Regions from separate parts of the Homo sapiens genome. Here region 2 is linked to region 1. The links come from fine-mapping of genetic effects on gene expression. A gene starts in region 1. The other region holds a variant in brackets. All regions are shown on one strand. Distances are from middle to middle. Region 1 holds the start of GZMB (granzyme B). Region 2 has its middle 46 kb from the start of GZMB.

The links.
Region 2: its variant is fine-mapped to the expression of GZMB in whole blood (INTERVAL, PIP 0.99).

What each region holds. Positions count from the first base shown.
Region 1 is chr14:24,632,172-24,636,565 of GRCh38, forward strand. It overlaps GZMB (granzyme B), which reads right to left and starts at 2,019. Exons shown (of 5, transcript NM_004131.6): 1 at 1,935-2,019; 2 at 744-891; 3 at 153-288. The coding sequence starts at 1,989. GZMH-AS1 (GZMH and GMZB antisense RNA 1) reads left to right here and starts at 931. Exons shown (of 3, transcript XR_007064087.1): 1 at 931-1,177; 2 at 2,125-4,394. RefSeq lists an enhancer at 1,398-2,597.
Region 2 is chr14:24,677,818-24,682,211 of GRCh38, forward strand. No RefSeq gene overlaps it. Among named protein-coding and RNA genes, the nearest start is that of GZMB, 46 kb to the left of the region's middle. RefSeq lists a silencer at 1,200-1,379. The variant A/C (reference allele first, on the strand shown) is at 1,834.

The DNA.
Region 1 (4,394 bases):
GACACAGTGATGGGGCTGCACAATCTTCCCTCTCCTCTGAGGCATAGGAACTAACCAAGAGGCCAGGATGGAAAGGAGGGAAGGGCCGGCATTCCAGGGGGAGTGGAACCAACTGGACCAAGAAGAGCAAGAGTGGCAGGAGTGTGCCTCACCTGCAGTAGCATGATGTCGTTGGAGAAGTTCTTAGGATTATAGGCTGGATGGGGGATGGGTCTTTTCACAGGGATAAACTGCTGGGTCGGCTCCTGTTCTTTGATATTGTGGGCCCCCAAGGTGACATTTATGGAGCTGCACAGAGAGCAGAGTGAGGATGGGGGTGGAGTCACAGGGTATACAGCCCAGAGACAGTGAAGAGCAGGTGACAGCTGGGGCAGGGCTGCAGCTGAGGGGAAATTAAGGGGACAGTCGGTCCCCAGGAATTGGAATTCTGGTAATTGCACCAGGTTTCTCAGGGTTCGGTTCCCCCTAGAAACACAGGTGGAATTGCTTCAGTTTGTATTCTATGCCAAAGTATGCCCCCAGTTCTAAATATGGCAGGCTTGGTCACTCTGCTGTTTCTTACTTCAGCAGCACCTCTGGAACCAACCTTCCCCTCTCTCCACAAACTTAACTGCCCTTTTCTCACCCTCTAAGGAGACCTCCTGGCATGTGTGTTCACAGGAGCCCAGGGAGCTCCTTGGGAAGAAGGCAGGGGTCTCTGTGGAGTGTTTCCAGGAGGGTGTGGGCTGTTTTCTGCTCCTCACCTTCCCCAACAGTGAGCAGCTGTCAGCACGAAGTCGTCTCGTATCAGGAAGCCACCGCACCTCTTCAGAGACTTCTGATCCCAGATCATAAGATAAGCCATGTAGGGGCGGGAGTGGGGCTTGGCCTCATGTCCCCCGATGATCTCCCCTGAAGGAAAAGTCTGTCTGCTTGTGGGCACCCATGGAATCTGCTGGGTGGGCACCTGCTTAGTGGCTCCAGAACTCCTGGGCATTTGGGAGCCTGGGATAGCCTGGAGTTGGGAGTGGCCTGGAGGAAGGGGCTTCAATTTCCTGCTCTGAAAAAGGGAAGAACAGCAGACTTTGGTCTGTAAATCTTTCTTCCATATGTAGTTGAAGGCGAGCATACCTGTCTTAGGGACAGTGAAATCCCAGAGGCTCCTGATCATTCCTCTCCTGACTTTGCTTTGTTTCAGGTGAGTTTCCAAGACCCTTATGAGTCCTGTGGTGTCTAGGATAGTGCTGCTTTCTAATGGCCAGGGTGTAAGTGGAGGGATCTAGATACTGTCATATCCTGTTTCCTAGAGCCTGACATGTAGTGGGTGCCCAGTAAATGTTCATGGCTGCATGATGGACTGGCTCCAGTTAGCCTCTGGATGAGGGCTGGTAGAGCAGTGCTGGTGGAATTCTAGAAAGCAGGGAAGCTGGGGCCTGCCGTAGTGCCTCATCCTTGGAAAGAGGGGAGCCACCAAAGGCCAGGGAAGAAAAGCAGAGTTGGAGAATGGGACTGAGCAAACACATTAACAGTGTTCTGAGGACAGTGATTGTACCAATTCTGCTGTCAGCTGAGCTCTGGGTTTCTCTCCTAAGTAGACAGTGAGAGAAGCACCTGTCTTATCCCAGAAACAGAAGCCAGGCCTACTCTAGAATAATTTAATATTTCTCTTTTCTAGTTTCCCATCCTCTGCCATTTACTTCTAGGAAAGTCCTACTCTCCAGGTGACAAAGGTGGGCTCTGGGGAAGGGATAGTACCCACTGGCTCTTCTTGAGAATGGCCTGCTGCTCTGCCATTCCTGCTGATAGCTTATCCAGCATCACACTTGGGGGGTCTTGGTAGAATGGGAGCTGGAGTTCAGAACATTCCTGGTAGATAGATGGATCAGGAATGTGGAGAAAGGGCAGGAGACCTGTGGGATGGGGTTGGGCCCCCGAGGGTGGAGACGGTCACTCACCTGCATCTGCCCTGGGCAGCAGGAGGAAGGCCAGCAGAAGCAGGATTGGTTGCATCTTCTCAGGAAGGCTGCCCTGGTTGGAGCTGCTGTTGTTTCCTCCTTGCTCTCTTTTAGCTCTTGGGAGAGGAAAGAGGTGGAGCAGGCTCAGTGACTTCATGTTCCCCTCTGGTTTTGTGGTGTCTCATCACAGATTTTCTGTAAATGCTGCCCACCCCCACTGCCTCTGCCTGATGACGTCCTCTGGGTGCTTGTGTGAGAATCATGCAGTGACCACATCATCACCCACAGCTGATGACTCAGAGTGGACCACCTATTCAGCCCAGAGCAGGAACCCAAGCCTATGAAGTGAATTGTAGGATGTGGTATCAGCCAGTAGAGGTACTGGAGCACCAGAAACCTGAGTTCCCAGTGATAGAACCGCCAATGCCTCATGGCCATGCTGCTAAATCCATCAGGATAGTTTCTTTAGCAGGTATGTGTTTGAGCCCTTCTGTTGTGCTAGAACCAAGCATGTTGGAGATGTGTCTCCTTCACTTAGAGAGCTGACCATCTGGTTGAAGAGACGGAAATGCCAGGAGCCAGAGTACAGTTTGGGGAGGGCTATGGTAGCACAATACACAAGGCAGTAACAAAGCATGGCCACCATCTACTAGACCCATCTAGCAACCCATTTATTATCATAGCTTCCTTTCTAGAGAATTTCTAACATCCCTTATTTAGTTACAAATGTTTAGTGTGAGAGTCCACCTCTTTTCTGAATGCTTTCAATAAAAGTCCTGTACTTGACATTTTATTGGGCTAGATTAATGAATTGCTAGGAGTCAAATCCACTTTGGGTAGGCTGGGGTCAGTCTACTCAAGCCACTAGAACCAAGAATGAGAAAGGGCTGGTTCTCTAAAGGACGTTTGTGGTGCTAAATTGCTGATACCATATGAAGTGAGGAAGCATGCCAGGCAGCCAAAGATCAGTAGTTGTGTTGTTTAGTATTCTGTCTCCTGTCCAGAGAGCCACACTTCTTACATAGCAGGCTCAGCACATAACAGGCTCACAGTAAACATTTGCTAAACAAACTACACTAATGCTATCATTATAATGGATGTGAAAGATTGTTGTTTCTGAACAGCCCGTGCCCAATTCTGTTAAAAGACAACTAAGTCTCTCTACATGGTTCGATTCTTGTGATTTGTTTCCACCTTTATATTTTCTGTGAGGAAATTTTTCTATGAGGAATGGTATATCTCAAAATATAGAATTCCAGTGTAAACGTCTTCCTTGTCAATAGCAAGCCAACTACATTTATCAAACTTCTATTTTTTGAACCTAGCTTGCCCCATAGTAGACGTTTTAAAAATAATTTTTTCTGATTATAGTCATAATATATGTTTGTTAAGAAAATTTGGAAAGTAGGAAGGGAAAATATCACTTTTTAACCTGTCTCCCACAGACTGACTGTTACCATAAGCAGTGTGTTTTAAATACTTGGGATCACATTGTACATACAATGCAATTTATTTTATCCTTGATTAACCCTACAAATTAAGCATTTTCCCCATGCTCGTAGAAATCTTAGTCAATACAACTATAGTCTTTCTTTCCTAGGCATTAAAAAATTTAATATGCAAGTAATTTTTAAATAATTTTAGCAAAGCGAAAATAATAAACATTACCTAATTTCTCATCATTCACTGATAACCATCTTTAATGTCTTGAAATATGCTCTAGCACATTTTTTCTCATGTAATATCTGCATTTTTTAAAATTAAAAGGGGATTATGCTAAACATAAGTTTATGACCCATTTAAAAAATTGAGGTAAAATTCACATAACATACAATTAACCATTTTAAAGTATTCAATTCAGTGACATTTAGCACATTCAAAATCTGCAACCACCACCTCTGGATATTTCATATAAACGGAATCACACAATACATGACCTGTTGTGGCTGGCTACATTCACTTGTAATAATGTTTCTGAGATTCATACAAGCTGTAGCACATGCCAGTATTCGTTCTTTTTAATGGAAAAATAATATTCCCATTGTATGTTTATACCACAAGTTATTTGTTCATCTGTCAATGGACATTTGGGTTGTTTTCATCTTTTGGCTATTGTAGCTAATGCAGCAATAATAAGCATTTGTGTACAAATTTCTGCATGAACAATATGTTTTCAGTTCTTTTGGATATATACCAAATATATATACTTTTGGAATTTCTGAGTTATACAATAATCCTATTTTTAATTTTTTAAGGAACCACCAAACTGTTTTCCACAGTGGTTGTACCCTTTTGCATTGCTTATCAGCAACATAGGAAAGTTCCTATTTCTCTGCATCCTTGCTGACACTTGTTATTTTAAAATTATTATCTTCATCCTAATGGGTGTAAAGTAGTATGTCATATGGTTTTGATTCACATTTCCTTTATGAGTAATGATGTTGAGCATCACTTCATGTG
Region 2 (4,394 bases), 46 kb after region 1:
CTCACAACAATCCTCTGACATAGTACTATTATTATTTTCATTTTATAGATGAGAAGGCAAGAGGTCTTAGAAATATTGCTCCAAATCATGGGCTAGCAACCACTGAAAGCCAGGATTTAAACCCATATCTGTGATACCAAAACTTTGATTCTTCATCTATAATTTTGCATGCTGCAGGCATGCAAAACTTTTTTAATGTTTTAAGAATGCTGGGAAATTGAATGTCATCCCCACAGCCCTTTTAAAGTTGTAGCCACAAAACCAGTTATTGTAATTACATCTTAAATGCAGATTTATTGTATCTAGCATGTCAGTACAAGTTGTATCATCATACTTATGCCATAGCAGCATTCCACATTCGTACTTGACAGTTCATTTGGGACTCAGCAAAATAAATATGTGAAGTAAGTGGGTGCTCACATTAAGGCTTGTTGAGAATGATGTGACATCTAGGAGACACCTGGTAAGGTTCATACACTTTGTGAAGATGACATGGTAGGGAAATGAAGACCACTGACTGAGAGCACAGCAACCCTGGGAGGCCTCCAAACTTAACTCCAGGAAGCACCTCAGCCTTTTATCTGGGAAACAGAAAGTTCAATAAAAATGGTCTTTGGGCAGGACGTGGTGGCTCACACCTGTAATCCCAGCACTTTGGGAGGCCAAGGCAGGTTTATTTCTTGAGCCCAGGAGCTCCAGACCAGCCTGGGAAATATGGTGAAACTCCTTCTCTACAAAAAATACAAAAATTAGGCGTGATGTTGTGCACCTGTAATCCCAGCTACTCGGGGGGCTGAGGCGGGAGGATCGCTTGATCCTCCCAGGGTGGTCGGGGTGAGCTGTGATCACGCCACTGCACTCCAGCCCGGGTGTCACAGCGAGACCCAGTTTAAAGAAAAAAATAAAAAGTCTCTGAGGCCCTTTCTGTCCCTGACTTTCTGGAATTCTCCCATTCTTCTATAATAGGCACTTCTTGGTTTCCCTCATTTTTGCTTACTTTATTTTTCTTTCTCTTTCTCCTTGACGTGTCCTCTCTCCTTAACTTCTTTTTTCTCCTCTGATGTGCCTTAAATTTGCCAGGGGCTCCCTTTGGAAAAACCCTGCCTGGCCCTATTATCCCCCTGATCAAAATGGTCACACGTTGGTGGCCTGGGGGCTGCCCTCCTTGACTCATAATGCCGGGACCCCTGATTTACACAGCAGGAGAGGGAGTGATCTGCGAACTCCTGAATTGCCGCCTTTCAGTTCCTGCGGCTGCTCTGACTGTCTGCATTGCGCCCTCTAGTGTCCAGACTGAGTTCTTTTACTGTCTAGACTGGGGAGTCCAGAGCAGATTCTTTTACCCGCCACGTGAGGGAGCAATTCAGGGAAAGTAAAACTATTAGTAAAAGACATTATTTTATTTTCAAATAATCGTAATTTTACCGAGTTCCTAGAAAAATGCACATTCTTAAAATTTATATTGTAAAACTTGTTGAATAGACGATCAATTAGAATATGGGAAGAAAGGTTTGGTTTCTAAAATATTAATAAGCATATTTGACATAGCAACCCAGGGAAAGCATCTAGTCACTTATTCCTTGTGTTCATACAGTCCTGTCCTTTACAGATCCCCAAGAGTGTGCATGTGTTTGATCTAAGTTTAGCCCCGAAATAGCTGGAAGGAGCTATCTCTAGCCCTGACATTTCCATGAAGCTCCAGATGGCCCGCTCAACTCTCCACATGTACCGACAGACAAAACAAATGCAATTGTGTGCAAAGCAGAACTCTAGATTCCTCCTCTCCCGACCCTGCTCCACCCCATTCCCCCTTGGCACCGCCAGCCACTTATT[A/C]CCATAGGCCCAAAGCCTAGGAGTCATTCTTGACCTTTCTCTTTCCCGCACCTTGCAGCCAGTTCACTGGTCATTCCTGTTAGCTCCACTTTCAAAATATATTCCAAATATAACCACTTCTTGGCACGGACACCGCTACCATCTTAGTCCAAGTCCTCATTATCTTTCTTTTGATGACAGCAGTAACATTCTAAGTGGTCTGCGTCGTTCTCCCCTCCCCTTGCCCTCACTTGCTTCACTTAAACAACCACAGCGATCTTAGAAAAATGTATCACATCTGTGTTCAGAACCCTCCAATGACTTCCTGTCTCATTTAGAATTAAACTGCAAAGTCTTTCCCATGGCCTACTCTCTGACCTTGCCCTCCTCCACTCTTCCCACCCCTCACTCCTTTCCACCTGCAGGAATGTCCTTTCTGAAATGCTCTATTCCCAGATCTTTATTTTCTCCTTTGCTTTCTTCAGGTCTCTACTCGAATGCCAACCCCTCAGAAAAGACTCTCTTAGCCACCCTGTCACGGGTAGCCACCTCCACACTCTCTGGTCCCATATCCTGATGTATTTTTCTTTCAGCATTTACCCCTGAGAGAAGATTCCCTGTCTCTGTGTGTTCATACTCTGCCCTCCCCTGACTAAGATGTAACTAAGATGTCAGATTCATGGCCAGATCATTTGTTTTGTTCCTTGCTGAATCCTCAGCTTTAAGCATATAGTGGCCATTCATTGATGGATGAAGGAATAAATAAATTATTAGTTTGAACCTTGTGAAATTGTTGACATTCTAAAAATTCTGGGCCACAAAAATAGCAATTCCAATAGTTCATCTTCATAATATAATATCGTTAGCATTTTATACCTAGGAAAACTGAAACTCAATGAGTCAAGTGACTTCCCCAAGTGAAATAAAGAAAGAATGAGAGGCAGACTGAGAGCACTTCATTTCGTTCATGCAACACTGAATTGTGTTCTGGACACTGCTAGGTGTGGGAGCCACTGAGGAGAAGGGCCTGCCCCATCTCCTAACTCAGCCACTCTGCCTTTGTGGCTAAAGGATCTCTTGCCAGCTCTGACTGGCGGAATGGGCAGGGCTACGTGTGAACCCAGAGCAGCCACCACCTCTCTGCAGAAGGGCCAGTGTCAGGGCAGTGTGGACTGATCCCCACTGCTTCTGTGACCTCTGGCACTCAGGGCTCCTGCCTGGTGGGCCTCGACCCTATTCCTTCTGTCTCAGAGGAAATGTAGAAAAATGTAGAACTGCTTCTGCATAGTGCCACTCCTCTGTCTATCCCCAATCTCCTCTTCAACATTGTGAAGCTGGAAATGACGCACATAGGGCACCCTCTTGACTGCTACTCCCCATGCATTTCTGACCCTCATAAGAGAGGCTGGATGGGAAACCACACTGATCCTCCAATACTTCTATGCTCAATAAGCCATCTGTGAGTTGGAAAGGAATTCAGAAATGGGGAAGGGGGCAGGTCGACCTATTTTGCTTTCACAGCAAAGGGTGTGTAGCATCAGGGTGACATTCAGGGCTGATTATTAGGTTGGTGCAAAAGTTATTGTGGTTTTTGCCATTACTTTTGCACCAACCTAAAAAATGTGTCAAATTTTTCTTCCCCAGACAGCTGGCCCTCTGAGTCACAGTGGGAGCAGTATGTAACAGGAGGGGAGAAGAAAATGAAAAAGCCACACAACTGTCTCTTTCTTTGAGCCCTTTTCCAAGCTCTCCTTAAATTTTCAGTTTCTCCTCTTGGTCATTCTCCCCAACAAGTGCTTTGTTTCAGAATTATTAATAACTGGAAAAGTTCTGTTTTTTTTCTCTTTAACTGGCATTTTGCTTATCCTGTGGCTTATTGAGCCCTAGGGAATTTATGCCCTATAAATAAATGACTATTATTATTATGTAGCTGTATTCAGAGCATTAGTTGAAAGGGAGAAGTGACATTTTTCTTTATTTGCTTTAGAAATGTGTTGTAGTCACAATAGCTCTCCTCCTGCCTGGGATTAATGGCATAATTATTCACACCGGGCAACAGAGATGGAATGAGTTTGAACTTGGCATGAATTAATACACCAAAATATGCCTCTTGTTCTTGCTCACTGCCTAATTAATTCTGAATTATGAAATTCTCTGTGAGCTACCCAAAAAGCATGGTCACCGGATTCTGGTGCAATTGTTCTTTCTTTGCACTAAAAATCAAGTGATTTGATAGTTATGGGCTGTTTGGAAAGAGAATGTCCATTTGAATATCCTAGGAAGGAAGGAACAGACCTCATAAGGGATTTTTCTAGAGGTTTTATAGTAAATAACCTGTGTATGATGGACATGCAAGGGCCCCCAGGGGAGACTGAGCTTTGCATGAACCAGCTTTACTGCTAGAGAAATAGAGGACTTAGGAGTACTGTGCCTTGATGTCTAGAATTTACACTATAGAAGGCCATGCCTTTGGATTAGGATATTTTGTTCAGAGGTTCCCAGTTAAATATGAATGAGTTGTCCATGGAGAATAGCACAATCACCTACCAACTCCCAACATAGGGTAAGGAGAACTTGCCACT